Regions from separate parts of the Homo sapiens genome. Here region 1 is linked to region 2. Evidence: fine-mapped expression QTL. Tissue or cell type: whole blood. Region 2 holds a variant in brackets; the other region holds the start of a gene. All regions are shown on one strand. Distances are from middle to middle.

Evidence for each region. PIP is the estimated chance that this variant, and not a neighbour inherited with it, causes the effect.
Region 1: it holds the start of UPK3B, and the variant in region 2 is fine-mapped to the expression of UPK3B in whole blood (GTEx, PIP 0.94).

Annotation. Positions count from the first base shown.
Region 1 is chr7:76,506,875-76,514,977 of GRCh38, reverse strand. It overlaps UPK3B (uroplakin 3B), which reads right to left and starts at 4,426. Exons shown (of 6, transcript NM_001347684.2): 1 at 4,241-4,426; 2 at 3,926-4,075; 3 at 3,096-3,321; 4 at 1,815-1,894; 5 at 902-1,031. The coding sequence starts at 4,325. LOC124901675 (a long non-coding RNA gene) reads left to right here and starts at 4,245. Exons shown (of 2, transcript XR_007060388.1): 1 at 4,245-4,454; 2 at 4,870-6,797. RefSeq lists enhancers at 1,109-1,758, 1,759-2,410, 2,411-3,062, 3,816-4,388, 4,389-4,961 and a silencer at 5,839-6,044.
Region 2 is chr7:76,648,175-76,656,277 of GRCh38, reverse strand. No RefSeq gene overlaps it. Among named protein-coding and RNA genes, the nearest start is that of POMZP3, 25 kb to the right of the region's middle. The variant G/A (reference allele first, on the strand shown) is at 4,839.

The sequences.
Region 1 (8,103 bases), 140 kb after region 2:
CTGCTCTCCTCCCTCCCAGCTCCCTCATGTGTAGTCTCTCTCTCTCTCTTTTCTTTTTTTTTTTTTTTTTTTGAGATGGAGTCTGGCTCTGTCACCCAGGCTGGAGTGCGGTGGTGTGATCTAAGCTCACTGTAACCTTCGCCACCCGGGTTCAAACGATTCTCCTGCCTCAGCCTCCCGAGTAGCTGGGATTACAGGTGCCTGCCACCACACCCGGACAATTTTTGCATTTTTAGTGGAGATGGGGTTTCACCATGTTGCTCAGGCTGGTCTTGAACTTTTGGCCTCCAGTGATCCTCCCACCTCGGCCTCCCAAAGTGCTAGGATTACAGGCATGTGCCACTGCACCCGGCCTCACCTGCAGTCTCTGATCCCTCCTTCCTCCCTTCTAGAACCAATTGGAGGACCACCTCTCCAGGTGGCCACCCTGACTACCCTGGCGTCAGCTTACTAAACCACCAGAGGATCCACAGACAGCAGGTGAGGCCCGGGAGGAGAAGGGCCTTGGCTGAGGACACACTGAAAAGACAGGGCCCGAGTGAGGCGGGACCTCCCGAACCTGTCCTCAGAGGGGCTGCTGGCCCCATCAATGACCCCTGAGGTGCGAGATACTCAGGGTGGGAGTTCCCTGCACAGGCCCTGGGAGGGGCGCTGCCCAGCTCGAAACCACGGGGCTCGGCAAGGTGGCTCACACCTGTAATCCTAATACTTTGGGAGGCCGAGACGGGAGGATCGCTTGAGCCCAGCAGTTCCAGACCAGCCTGGGCAACATAGCAAGTCCCTGTCTCTACCAAAAATAAAATAAACCCCATGGCATGCCTGGAGGGCTTCCAGACACTGGGACCAATTCAACAGAGGGGTTCTGGGTGGGAGAGGGGCCCGAGGGGGTGTCCCCACTCACAAGCGCATGGTAGAGGCTGCCAAGAAGGCCAAGAGTAGGAGGCCGGCCAGAGAAGAGAGGATGGAGGTAATGACGATCATGCTGCCACTTCGCCGCCCTGGCCAGGTGTCGATGGATCCGGGGGTCTTCCCTGCACACACACCAGCTGCTCAGAGGGGCTGCCCCTCGACCCCAGGGCTGGCTGTCATCTCCTCCCTCGCTCCCTCCCCACCCACGCTGGCCTAGCTTCAAGGTCTGGCTGTCTCATATCCCCAGGCGCCCCCCTGATCCCACCCCCCGTCCCTCTTCCTCGGGACGGCACAGCATCTGTTCTCTGCCAGCCTGGACCACAGCCTCCGCCCTGCTCCTACCTTCTAGGCTGCTCCCACCCACGTGCTCATCCACTGCCCTGCTCCCTGGAGCCCAGCAGTCAAGGCCTTCAGATGACAAGACTTCCACCCCACACCCCCTGACCTCTGAAGCCGTCTCCCAGGAGACCCCCACCCCCGACACCTGGGCCGTGGCACTCGAAACTTCTGGGCTTGGTACATTCACGCTTGCCCCTTGGGGTCTGCTCAGAACTCAAGCTGGCTGCCTCCCCAGCCAGCCCCGACCCTGACCCTGACCTCCTCCACACCCTCTTCCTCCCTCCCAGCAGGGGCTGACACAGGCTGACTCCCTACAGGAGGGGGGAGGCTGTCTGTGCCCACAATGTGGCAAACGCTTGCGGATGGGCCGAGATGGTGCCCCTGCCGAGGGGGCTGGCTGGGTGCCCCACTCCCCCAGCATGAGGTTCTGTTGGGGGCTGGGCCCGACTTGGACATGGCCTCCAGGCCCCCAGCCCTGTGGGAGCAGGGGTGTGGCCAGCTCAGCAGAGGCGGCCCAGAGAGATCGTGAGTCCACTGGGGGCAGCGCCCCTCCTGCCCAGCGCTACCTTGGTGGAGAGTGATGGGGTCTGACCACTTGGTCTCAGCCCTGGGTGAGCCCCTGGTGTCCATCAGGAGGAACTTCACCCTGGGGATGGGAGGTGGTGGGGGAGGAGGGGAGAGCTTCAGAGGCTGGGACCACCCTGGGCAGGGCCAAGCCCCAGGCAGCTCCTCTGGGGCCCTCCCATGGATGTGGAGTGGGGGTGCCCGTCAAGAGCAGCAGCCCATGGCCTGGCCCTGCTCTGAGAATCCCCTGAGATGTCTCCAGCCACTTGGCCTGTGCCACCACCCCTCATCCCCCCGAGCAATTGCTCTCCAGACACCAGACCTGGGCCGGGGATGCTGGTTTAGGGGCCCTGGTTCCTAAATGTCACAAGCCAAAAGAGCAGGTGAAGGTGGCTTAGCAGGGCACATGGGGCAGGGGTCACAGGCCTCCCAGAGGGGCAGCAGTAGCCGGGGGCAGGGGGCTCAATCACCAGCAGCCTGAGGACCCAGGGCACCAGGAGCCCCGCAGAGGGCCTCGGTTTGTCTCTTTGCAGGGCTGGGAGCTCTGCAAGGCCTGGGAAGCGGGGAAGGACCTGGCAGGTTGGCATTGAAAAGAGTGGCTGCGGGGGATGGGGCGGGGCATGGAGCTGGAAGGCTGAGCCAGGGTGAGGCAGCGGGGAGGGCAGAGGGTGGACCTGGAGAGTGGGTGAGAGGGCAGAAGGGGGCTGGGCGGAGCGGGGTGCTGTTCCAGCCTCACCACGCCCTGCCTTCCCGGCTTCCCCTGGGCCTGGTCTTCCTGAGGTCACCCCGCCTCCTCCTGTGTCCGGACAGTCCTGACCTGGACACACTGCCTGCTTCCCCATCCCGGCTCCACCCCGATGTTGGCAGGCCACTTGACCTCCTGTGCCTCAGTTTCCTCATCTGTAAGAGCGGGTAGGAGCCACCTCTCCTGCTCCCTGCCTAATACCGACGAGACTGGGTCTGAACTCGGCCCCCGAGTTTCCTGCCAGATCTGCCCGTGGTGGGGGACAGGGGCCTAGACTTTGGGGAAGCTGCCCCCTCCCACCTTGACTAAGATCCCGCCTCCCCAAGGTGCCCACCTGCTCCTCCTGGGCCTTGCCCGGCCCCAGCGGGGGTGAGCACTGTTGCTGACTCTACAGTGGAAGGAGCCCGGGCTTGCAAAGGGGAGGACCGGGGCCGGGGACCCCTCCCTGGAAAGATGCTAGAGAGAGCATCCCTGGTCCCAGCAATGCGTCCGCCCCAAGCACAGCCCCAGTCCCAGGGCTCCGGTGGGGACCACCCACCGATAGGGTCCAGGGCCAGGGAGGGGCGCGTTGCAGAAGGGCTGCTGGTGGCAGCCGTGGTCATGGCCCACCCGCAGCACGGGGGCGCCTCCGCTGCCCGCCATGGGGTCGCCACAGGGCAGCTGGTCCGGAGACAGGGGCAGCGTCATGTAGTGGCCATCGGTCAGCAGCTGTGGGGAGGCCGGAATGTCAGCCAGTGTCTCCGGGTTCTGGAAGCCCCTGGAGGCTGCAGGAGGAGAGAACAGATGGAGGTGGGAGGGGAGAAAGCAGCTTTGTCCTTATGAGTGGGGGTTCTGTGTTCGCCCAGTCTCCAGCCCTGACCCCCCATGCCACCTCCTCCCTCAGGGCCCCCAGAGATAGTCCAGACCCAGTCGACTTTGTTACCCCTGAAGGGGAGCTTCCCTCTGGCCTTTTGTCCCCACCCAGAGCCAGGAGTGGGGAGCAGCGGGCAGTCCCAACCTGCCCAGCCCCAGCCCCAGCCCCATTGCAGTGCACCGGCCCTGCCCCACAGGAGGCCACATCCTCCCAGGTCGCAGCCTCGGTTCCCTGTCCAAAGGAAGAACTACTTGGATTCAGAGAAAGGGTTGCAGAGCCCTTGACAGCTGACAAACCCACCACTAGCACTACTCCCGGGATTTGGTGTTCACTACGTGTGTATTTTTCAATACACATATTACCCCTTTAGATAAAGCCCAATTCATCCACACCTACTCTCCCAAAGGCCCCCACAGGGGCTCAATCATTGAAGGCGCTTGCTGGTGAGGGGCTCCTAGGGCCCACCACTCTCCTCAGCCGTCACCCTCACCCAGGCCCCACAGCAGTCCCCGTACCATTGCTGAAGGCCACCACGAGCCAGACGGTATCGCTGGCGCTGGCAAGCCCATCGAAGACACAGCGCGGCTGCTCCAGGGAGAAGGTGGTGGCTGTGACCTTCCCTTCCAGGTCCCAAGCTGTTATCTGTGGTGTGTAGGGCACCAGCTCTGTGGCCACGGGGGACAAAAGGTGAGCCACGGAGACGGGCGTGGGGGTCCCTGGGGCTGCCTCTCCCAATCGGAGGGGGGCGGGCGCCCAGGGTCCAATCACTCCAGCAGGGCCCCCAGCCCCTTGGGTCTGGCTGGACGCGTCCATCCAGGACCCCCACTCACCCAGGCTCAGGCTGGGCCGGAGACAGTTCAACGCCAGGAGGAGCATCTGCAGCCCTAGGTGAGGCTGCCCCCAGGGTAGCCCCATGACAGCTGCCAGCACCCGGGAGGCTCAGGGGCTGGTCTGGCTGCTTCGGGCTGCACCTCACCCCCAACAGCTTGGCCCTGGAGAAGCTGGTTAATCAGGCTGCCCCAGGGGCTGGAAAGACCTGCAAATGTAAGTGCACCCCACCCCCTTCCTCCCAGGCCAGCCCACAGCAGGGAGGAGCTGGGGGGACTCTGGTGGGAGGCAGGCCAGTATCCAGCCCCACTGCCAGGGCCAAGGGAGAGGGGCCACTGGAACCCCAGATGCCAGCCAGGCCATCCCGGAGCCTGGATTGGGGCCCCTCCCAGTCTCTCCGCCCTGGGGAGGAGGGTCTGGCTTTTGGAAACAGGCTCAGGACCACATGCCTGAGATTCCTGTGCCCCAGGTGCCAGGAGCCTCCCTCTGCCTTCTGTCCCCACCCAGAGTCAGGAGTGGGGAGTAGCAGGCAGCCCCAACCTGCCCAGCCCCATCCCCATCACAGCACGCTGGCCCTGCCCCCCACGAGGCCACATCCTCCCAGTTCGCAGCCTGGGTTCCCTGTCCACAGGAAGAAGAACTTGGATTCAGAGAAAGGGCTGCAGAGCCCTTGACAGCTGACAAGCCCGCCACTTAAACACTACTCCCGGGATTTGGCGCTCACTATGTGTGTATTTTTCAAGACATAACTCACATACCTTCACAACCTTCACAGCTCAGTGGCTTAAATATATATATGTCACCCAGGGAGGTCAGTTCACAGCTAACTGGAGCCTCAAACTCCCAGGTTCAGTTAATCCTCCCACCTCAGCCTTCCCAGTAGCTGGAACCACAGGCACACAACACCATGCTCCGGCTAATTTTTAAAATTTATTTAATTAATTTTTTTTTAAGATGGAGTCTCCTTTGTTGTCCAGGCTGGAGTGCAGTGGCGTGATCTGGGCTCACTGCAACCTCCGCCTCCTGGGTTCAAGCGATTCTCCTGCCTCAGCCTCCCAAGTAGCTGGGATTACAGGCATGTGCCCCACGGCCAGCTAATTTTTGTATTTTTAGTAGGGACGGGGTTTCACCATGTTGGCTTGGCTGGTCTCAAATTCCTGATCTCAAGTGATCCACCCGCCTTGGCCTCCCAAAGTGCTGGGATTACAGGCATGTGCCACCGTGCCTGGCACCCCCGCCAATTTTTTTTTTGTTTTTTTTGAAACGGAGTTTTCACTCTTGTTGCCCAGGCTGGAGTACAATGGCTCGATCTTGGCTCACCGCAACCTCCACCTCCTGGGTTCAAGTGATTCTCCTGCCTCAGCCTCCTGAGTAGCTGGGATTACAGGCATGTGCCACCACACCTGTCTAATTTTGTATTTTTAGTAGAGATAGGGTTTCTCCACGTTGGTGAGGCTGGTCTCGAACTCCTGACCTCAGGTGATCCACCCACCTCAGCCTCCCAAAGCGCTGGGATTGCAGGTGTGAGCCACTGCGCCCGGCTGGCCAATTTTTAAAAATGTATTTTTTATAGAAACAGGATCTTGCTATGTTGCCCAGGCTGATCTCTAACTCCTGGGAGGATCAAGCAAATCTCCTGCCTTGGCCTCCTAAAGTATTGGGATTACAGGCGTGAGCCACCGTGCCTGGCTATTTTTTTTTTTTTTTGAGACATGGAGTCTCACCCTGTCGCCCAGGCTGGAGTGCAATGGCGTGATCTCTGCTCACTGCAACCTCCACCTCCTGGGTTCAAGCAATTCTTCTGCCTCAGCCTCCCTAGTAGCTGGGACTACAGGCACCTACCACCATGCCCAGCTAATTTTTGTATTTTTAGTAGAGATGAGGTTTCACCAACTTGGCCAGGCTGGTCTCGAACGCCTGACCTCGCGATCTACCTGCCTTGGCCTCCCAAAGTGCTGGGATTACAGGCATGAGCCACTGCGCCCAGCTGCTAATTTTTAAAAATATAGTTTTTGAGGCTGGGTGTAGTGACTTACGGCGGTAATCCCAGCACTTTGGGAGGCCGAGGTGGGCAGGTCACTTGAGGTCATGAGTTCGAGACCAGCCTGGCGAACATGGTGAAACCCTGTCTCGACTAAAATTACAAAAATTAGCCGGGTGTGGTGGAACGTGCTTGTAATCCCAAGTACTCGGGAGGCTGAGGCAGGAGAATGACTTGAACCCGGGAGGCGGAGGTTGCAGTGAGCTGAGATCGCACCACCGCACTACAGCGTGGATGACAGAGTGAGACTCTGTCTCAAAAAAAATATAATAAAAATATATTTCTTGTAGAGACAGGGTCTCACTGTGTTGCCCAGCCTGGTCTTGAACTCCTGGCTCAAGGGATCCTCCTGCCTCAGCCTCCCAAAGTGCCCAGATTACAGGCATGAGCCACAGCGCCCAACAGCTTTTAGTATATCAACAAGGTTGTGCAACCATCACCAATTCCAGAACCTTCTTACTTCCCCAAAACGAAACACTACACCCATTAAACGGTAACTCTCCATTCTCCCGTCCCCAGTGACGACTAAGCTACTTCTTGTTTCCATGGTTTTGCCCGTAATGGACATTTCATAGGATGCAGTCACACAACATGTGACCTTTTGTGTCTGGCTTTTGTTACTTTTTCAAGGTTCCTCCTCGACTGTGATTGCTTCATTCCTTTTCACAGTTGAGTAATATTCCATCCTGTGAACGTATCACACTTTCATTCATCAGTGGATGCAGAATTTGTTTTTTTCCACTGTGGGGCTACTGTAAATAATGCTGCCATGAGCATCCGTGCGCAGGCTTCTGTGGGCACATTTTCAATTCTCTTGAGAATGTACCTAGGAGTGGAACTGTGGTCATATGCTAATGCTGCTTTCTGAGGTTCTGTTTGCCAAAGTGGCTGCATTTTACATTCCCAGTAGCAGTGGATGAGGGTCCCATTTCTCGACATCCTCTCCAACACTGCTTTTTGTTTTAGTATAGCCATCGTAATGGGTGTAGTGTGGCATCTCATGGTTTTGTTTTTATATATATTTTTTGAGACGGAGTCTTGCTCTGTCGCCAGGCTGGAGTACAGTGGCGTGATCTCGGCTCACTGCAACCTCTGCCTTCCGGGTTCAAGCAATTCTCCTGCCTCAGCCTCCCAAGTTAGCTGGAATTGTAGGTGCACACCACCATGCCCAGCTAATTTTTGTATTTTTAGTAGAGGGGGTTTCACCACGTTGGCCAGGCTGGTCTCGAACTCCTGACCTTGTGATCCTCCCGCCTCAGCCTCCCAAAGTGCTGGGATGACAGGCCTGAGCCACTGTACCCGGCCAACACTGGGGTCTTCTAGAGAGACCTCACTACCCTTTTTACCCTGGACCAACTTACCATTAGGCACAGTGCCCTGGGCCCACACTATAAGAGCTGACATACATTTTTAATTTCTTTTAAAATCAGAAGGGAAAAAAATGAACCTTTAGGTGAGAGAAAATCCTCTAGTATACATTAATATATTCATCTTTATACCAACATGTTGTAAAATAGGTTTAACAGAGAAAGGGGCTCACCAAGGCCAAAGTGCCTCTGCTTTCCACAGCCATGAATGAGGTGGCCCTACCGTCCCCCTCTGGTCCCAGGCCCAAACTACTCCTCCCGGACAAGCAGCAAGATCTTGACTGGGGATATCTGATCCTCCTTCCAAGAGGAGGAAGAATTAGAACTTTGAGAATGGTGTCAGATCAACCCTGGCCTGGATTCCACCTACCTAGCCAAGCATTCAATCTGTCTCTTTTTATTATGATTTTACAGATGGGATCTTGCTCTGTTGCCCAGGCTGGAGTGCAGTGGTGCA
Region 2 (8,103 bases):
TTTTATCTCCTAAGTATCTTTCAAATTCATCTGTTCCTTCTGCTACCACCCCAGCTGTGCCTTAGATCATAGCCTATGTGGATTGCTGTAATAGCTTTTTTAATGGTTTCCCTATTTTCAGCCTTGTCTCTCTCCAGGCAACTCTCCAGATGTCAATAAGACTGACCCCTAAAAAATACAAATCTGCTCATGTTAAATTCCTATGCAAAACCCTATATGATTTCCTATTGCCCTTCTGATCAATTTGAAATTCTCTAGCGTGGCTCGCAAGCCCTTTCAAGATTTTGCACAGTTAACTTTATAGGCCAGTGTCCTTCTAATCCACACCACCCACTTAATCAGTAGAATTTACTCCTATTGACTTTCAGTCTTTCTACATTACAACCATAAAAAGGAGAAATAATCCCAAGGATGTTGTACATTGTTTCCTACACTGAGAAAACTATTTTTCCTTTCTTTGCCTTTTCTACCATCTTGTCCCTAATTATTTCTCCTCCTTAAGAGGCTATCATAGGTTTGTTTTCTTTTTAGACCCTTAGGTCTGATTTAGATATCCCACTCATGTGTTTTATTGTATACTGAATTTCCCCAAGGATTTCACATGGAATTATATTTGCTGATTTTTCTAATCACTCCCCATGGAATTTGCCCTAAAAATGGTCCCAACATTCCATGCGTCTATTCCAATAAATTTTCCATTAAACCATCCTCATCTATTTTTATATTTCTAGAGGAAATTCCTTGTGCTACCTGCAAACCCATTTTCTGAAATAGTGTTTAAAGGTGCTTTAAATATTTCAGATCCCACAGGAAATATATAAATTTAGAGAGTATATATAAAGCATATCTTTGAAGTATATTTCCTCTACAAAAAATACAAAAATGACAGAAGCAGAAAATAAAGTTCTGTCTTTCACCAATTACAGGTAGCCAAATGTGTCATAGAATTGCAAGTGCTGTTAAGCTTCAAATTATGCATTTTTATAAAAAGGGGTTAATGGGATTTTATACTAAGTTATAAAGTCACCTAGAAGGACAACATTTTTAAGCTTCTATTTTACTGTCAATGACATCCATTTTAATTTTGCTTAGCTTAGAAATTGAAACAAAAAGGAAAGTTTTTTTTTTTCTAATTGCTCACATTGCAAAGTTTAGATTATGAAAAATCAAGCTGTGTTCTCTCTGGTTCAGTATCACCTCAAGTAATAAAGTTTCTGCAATTAGCACTTTACTGACAGTTCGGCTGATGATGCATGAGGCAGGGTGAAGCCAGCTCACTCTTCCATAGCTGTAATATCACAGCGTAGCTAAGGGAAGTGTAATTTTAAAAGAAAAGCCAGCAGATATGTCTTGAAAACACCCAGGGAGCTAATATGCTGAATAAGAAGGTGACATTTTTTACGTAGTTAACTTTTCTGAGTACATCCAAACCATGGCTGCGACTCATGGTTATCAGCATTTTATTCTTAGCTAATGGAGCTTAAATCTTTTGGGTTCTTACAACTGCAAATACAATTACCATTTTATGATTTGTAATTTGTATGTGCTTCATAACTGTCTCCAAATTAACCTGGATCAATTTAACTAAAATTAAAATACTTCCTAAAGTTTGTACCACCTCTATTAAACTGGGCTATTGCAAAACAAATTTGTTTTCTTTCCTACCCCTACGTGGAGACAAAATAATCCTGTGCATATCAATCCAATGCAACAGAATATATTATTAAATGTAAACTAGAGAGCTCTGTGATAAATATTTGAAAATTAACTATTTTTACTTATGCTTTACTAACCTAATTTTTATCTACAAATGTTACCATAAAGACTCTGTAAAATTCATTCCACGTTAAGACAGTCTCTTAATAGTCCCCCAATTTATTTTTACTCTAAATTAGTTGTCTTTTATGTATCTACCCATAACACTTTATTATAACACTTACCTCACTGAAATACAGGTGGTCCTGGAATTTCATTTGACTTTCAGACTGTCTTCTTTTCCTTTATTTTACACCTGTAAAATTGACTTTCATACTCCAGAGAGTACCTTTATGTGAAGTCACAATGAATTTGAAACATCCTAAGGCTCTGCCTCCCAGCCAACAGTTCATCTGGCTCTTTTTGGGATTCATTTATGTTGAAGTGCAAAGCTTCATGGTTGCATAATATTCTCAGAAGCATATATAACATTAATCCACCTTTTTAAAACTTCCTCCAAAATTAAGGACAATACACCTACCAGAAAAAAATCTTCAAATTTAAGCAGACTCCATGGGAAAGGGTGGAAATATTATGCTCAGGAACTCAGTGCAGTGTGTATTGCACTAACAAGAAAGCCACTTGAAGTTGGTTTGGCAAGTTTTAGTACTTTGCTGTTCTAAGGTCTTCCCAACATGAGTGCCGATATGTTTCTTCCCTTTTAGCCAGAGAAATATGTCAGACTCGGAGAGCTGTGAAAAGTATTTGAAAATTGACTATTTTTACTCATGCTTTGCTAACCTATTTTTAATTTACATGCATTATTGCAAGAACTCTGTTTTATAATTCACTCCAAAATATTCACTCCAAGAATTCAGCTCACTTCTCTTTTTTTGTTTAGCTATTTTCAATGCCTATTCAAGAAAGGCTGCTGAAAATCACTAATCATTGCTATGCCCTACACTGTCCAACACACATGTCATAGTAGGAAATTGCTTAGCTTTGCAGCTTCAATTTCTAAAAATAAATGTGTGTACTGCTTTATCAATTTTTGAAAGTTCAATTTGCAAATATACTCTTTTAACTTAGAAAGAGCTTATCTTTTCTGCTTCCTGTAAACGTTTCTTATAGATAGCTAAGAATAAACTTTAAATAGAAGTTTAATGTTGATAAAATGTTCTAGGCATTAGGTTTGAAGATTCTTTTTTTTTTATTATTATACTTTAAGTTTTAGGGTACATGTGCACATTGTGCAGGTTAGTTACATATGTATACATGTGCCATGCTGGTGCACTGCACCCACTAACTCGTCATCTAGCATTAGGTATATCTCCCAATGCTATCCCTCCCCCCTCCCCCCACCCCACAACAGTCCCCAGAGTGTGATATTCCCCTTCTTGTGTCCATGTGATCTCACTGTTCAATTCCCACCTATGAGTGAGAATATGCATTGTTTGGTTTTTTGTTCTTGCGATAGTTTACTGAGAATGATGTTTTCCAATTTCATCCATGTCCCTACAAAGGACATGAACTCATCCTTTTTTATTGCTGCATAGTATTCCATGGTGTATATGTGCCACATTTTCTTAATCCAGTCTATCATTGTTGGACATTTGGGTTGGTTCCAAGTCCTTGCTATTGTGAATAATGCCGCAATAAACATACGTGTGCATGTGTCTTTATAGCAGCATGATTTCTAGTCCTTTGGGTATATACCCAGTAATGGGATGGCTGGGTCAAATGGTATTTCCAGTTCTAGATCCCTGAGGAATCGCCGCACTGACTTCCACAATGGTTGAACTAGTTTACAGTCCCACCAACAATGTAAAAGTGTTCCTATTTCTCCACATCCTCTCCAGCACCTGTTGTTTCCTGACTTTTTAATGATTGCCATTCTAACTGGTGTGAGATGGTATCTCATTGTGGTTTTGATTTGCATTTCTCTGATGGCCAGTGATGACGAGCATTTTTTCATGTGTTTTTTGGCTGCATAAATGTCTTCTTTTGAGAAGTGTCTGTTCATGTCCTTCGCCCGCTTTTTGATGGGGTTGTTTGTTTTTCTCTTGTAAATTTGTTTGAGTTCATTGTAGATTCTGGATATTAGCCCTTTGTCAGATGAGTAGGTTGCAAAAATTTTCTCCCATTTTGTAGGTTGCCTGTTCACTCTGATGGTAGTTTCTTTTGCTGTGCAGAAGCTCTTTAGTTTAATTAGATCCCATTTGTCAATTTTGGCTTTTGTTGCCATTGCTTTTGGTGTTTTAGACATGAAGTCCTTGCCCATGCCTATGTCCTGAATGGTAAAGCCTAGGTTTTCTTCTAGGGTTTTTATGGTTTTAGGTCTAACGTTTAAGTCTTTAATCCATCTTGAATTGATTTTTGTATAAGGTGTAAGGAAGGGATCCAGTTTCAGCTTTCTACATATGGCTAGCCAGTTTTCCCAGCACCATTTATTAAATAGGGAATCCTTTCCCCATTGCTTGTTTTTCTCAGGTTTGTCAAAGATCAGATAGTTGTAGATATGCGGCGTTATTTCTGAGGGCTCTGTTCTGTTCCATTGATCTATATCTCTGTTTTGGTACCAGTACCACGCTGTTTTGGTTACTGTAGCATTGTAGTATAGTTTGAAGTCAGGTAGTGTGATGCCTCCAGCTTTGTTCTTTTGGCTCAGGATTGACTTGGCGATGCGGGCTCTTTTTTGGTTCCATATGAACTTTAAAGTAGTTTTTTCCAATTCTGTGAAGAAAGGCATCGGTAGCTTGATGGGGATGGCATTGAATCTGTAAATTACCTTGGGCAGTATGGCCATTTTCACCATATTGATTCTTCCTACCCATGAGCATGGAATGTTCTTCCATTTTGTTTGTATCCTCTTTTATTTCCTTGAGCAGTGGTTTGTAGTTCTCCTTGAAGAGGTCCTTCACATCCCTTGTAAGTTGGATTCCTAGGTATTTTATTCTCTTTGAAGCAATTGTGAATGGGAATTCACTCATGATTTGGCTCTCTGTTTGTCTGTTGTTGGTGTATAAGAATGCTTGTGATTTTTGTACGTTGATTTTGTATCCTGAGACTTTGCTGAAGTTGCTTATCAGCTTAAGGAGATTTTGTGCTGAGACAATGGGGTTTTCTAGATATACAATCATGTC[G/A]TCTGCAAAGAGGGACAATTTGACCCCATCTCTTTTGAGTTAAATTCATTATTTATCTAGGTATTGCCTATTATAAAATAATAGAGACTTCAAGTGCTTTATATATAACCATTAGAAAGATTTGTGCATAAGCCAGTCTCCATAACATAACTGAGATGGGGTTTCACCGTGTTAGCCAGGATGGTCTCAAACTCCTGACCTCGTGATCCGCCTGCCTCAGCCTCCCAAAGAGCTGGGATTACAGGCATGAGCCACCGTGCCTGGCCTTATTTTTTATTTTATTTTTAAAATTTTTAAATTTTTTGGCCAGGTGCAGTGGTTCATTGCTGTAATCCCAGCACTTTGGGAGGCCGAGGTGGGTGTTTTGGGTTTTTATTTTTGTATATATATAAAGGACCCCAAAGGATATGTGTTTCCAATATGATTTCCCTTCCATAATCTGTAACATAAAATAAGGTATACGATGTTCATGGTTAACTTCACCAGTGAGCTTTGTAAAATGTTATCCCCCTATCCCTTTTCCATATCTCCCAATTCTGATCATGTTGCCATTACAGGGGCCAGTGTCATTCAAAGATGTGGCTGTGGATTTCACCCAGGAGGAGTGGCGGCAACTGGACCCTGATGAGAAGATAACATACGGGGATGTGATGTTGGAGAACTACAGCCATCTAGTTTCCTTGGGTGAGGATAGCTTGCTTTCTGAATGCTCTCAGTTGAATGGGGTTTTATGCTTGAGTTTGAAGAAATAAGTGACAACACCACTTAATTCCTTGTGGGCACTAGCTGCAGTGTTTATATTATTCTTCATTGAAAGGTTCTATCTTTGATAAGGTAAAAAATGGAGCATTTCTGTTATGCAGCTTATGAGGTGGCAACATCTTGTACTTCAGAGATTCTGAAGCCGAGCAACTTGCCCAAGTCCTTCTTCTTTTCCCATTAACAAGATATGATATCACCAAGCCAAACGTCATCATTAAGTTGGAGCAGGGAGAGGAGCTGTGGATAACGGGAGGTGAATTTCCATGTCAACATAGTCCAGGTAAGTTAGTAGAGTATCAAATGTTAAAAAATGCTCATCCCAGACCTTTGGGAGTGACTAAAGAGTTGTTTATATGTACTCGGTACCCTCAGTGACACCTCCCAACCCCCAAATATCACTTTCCTTCCCGCACACATACATGAACTCTTTTGTTTATTTTATATTTGATTTACATTGGTAGGGATTTTTTCATTCTAACCTATACTGGGGACCCATTCACTTCCTCTTCCTCCAGCATTATCGGTCACTTATTTACTCCCTCACCATTAGAGAATTGTTGTGGGCTGTTTGTTTGTACAATTATCCTGCCTCAGCCTCCCAAGTAGCTGGGATTACAGGCATGCACCACCATGCCCGGCTACTTTTGTATTTTTAGTAGAGATTGGGGTTTCACCATGTTGGCCAGACTGGTCTTGAACTCCTGACCTCAGGTGATCTGCTCGCCTTGGCCTCCCAAAGTGCTGGGATTATAAGCGTGAGCCACCGTGCCCAGCCTGAATTGTAACACTTTAAAATGGTATGTGGACTGGGTGTGGTGGCTCATGCCTGTAATCCCAGCACCTTGGGAGGCTGAGGTAGGAGGATCGCTTGAGACCAGGAGTTCAAGACCAGTCTGGCAACACAGTGAGATCCCATCTCTACAAAAAAAAAATAAAAAAGTAGCCTGAGTCGGGCCTGGCACAGTGCAGGAGAATTGCTTGAACCCGGTAGGCAGAGGTTTCAATGAGCCGAGATCACGCCATTGCACCCCAGCTTGCCAGCTTAGGCAACAAGAGTGAAACTCCATCCAAAAAAAAAAAAGAACTGTAGGCAGGATAGTTTCATCTACCTGTCTTCATGTGTTCAGTGACTCTCTCTTCCATCTGCTCTAATGAATTCGAAATAGTCTGGTGAATTTTTCATTTCCATTTCTATACTTTTCTTTTTTTTTTTTTTTGAGATGGAGTTTCGTTCTTGTCACCCAGGCTGGAGTGCAATGGTGCGATCTTGGCTCACTGCAACCTCTGTCTCCTGGGTTCAAGCAATTCTCCTGTCTCAGCCTCTCGAGTAGCTGGGATTACAGGTGCCCGCCACCATGCCTGGCTAATTTTTGTATACTTTTCAGCTTCAGACTTTGATTCCTTTCAATAATTTCTATTTTTTTCCTTTCTTTTTTTCTCTAAGCTTTAGTTTGTCTATAATAAATTCTTTTTTTGAGACAGGGTCTCACTCTGTCACCCAGGCTGGAGTGCAGTGGTGCAATCTTGGCTCACTGCAGCCTTGACTTCTCATGCTCAGGCAATTCTCCCACCTCAGCCTCCCAAGTGGCTGGGACTACAGGCGCATGCCACCACACTTGGCTGATTGTTTGCATTTTTTGTAGAGAGGGGGTTTCGCCATGTTGCTGAGGCTGGTCTTCAAATCCTGGCCCCAGGTGATCTGCCCACCTCAGCCTCCCAAAGTGCTGGAATTACAGGCATGAGCCACTGCCCCTCACCTGTCTATAATATTTTCTATTTCTTTATTGATGTTCTGCATTTGTTGAGACATTGTTCTCCTTGTATCCTTTAACTCTTTATTCATCGTTTCTTTTAGCTTTTTGAGCAGATTTCAGACAGCTGATTTAAAGTCTTTGTCTAGTACTTTCAATGTCTGTGCTTCCTTAAAGACAATTTGTTTCTTTTGTGAATGGGCTGTACTCTCTTAATGTCACTGCATGGTTTGTAATTTTTTTTTGAAAATTGGAGTCAGGCACAGTGACTCACACCTCTAATCCCTTTTCCCCAAAAAAAGAAAAAGTAAAATTAAAAAGAAAAAAAGAGTCCAGGCGTGGTGCCTCACGCCTGTAATCCCAGCACTTTTGGGAGGCCGAGGTGGGCAGATTGCCTGAGGTCAGAAGTTCAGGACCAGTCTGGCCAACATGGTGAAATCCCATCTCTACTAAAAATCCAAAAACAGTCAGACACGGTAGCATGCGCCTATAATCCCAGCTACTCAGGAGGTTGAGGCAGGGGAATTGCTTGAACCAGGGAGGTGGAGGTTGCAGTGAGCCGAGATCGCACCACTGCCCTCCAGTCTGGATGACAGAGCGAAGACTCCGTCTCAAAAAAGGAAATCAGACATTTTGAGTATTATAATGGGGTAACTGGAAATTATTTTATCCTCCCCACCACCCCTGGGTTTGCTTTTGCTGTGGGCTGTAGCTGTTTGTTCAGTGACTTTCTAAACATTTTTGCAAAGTGT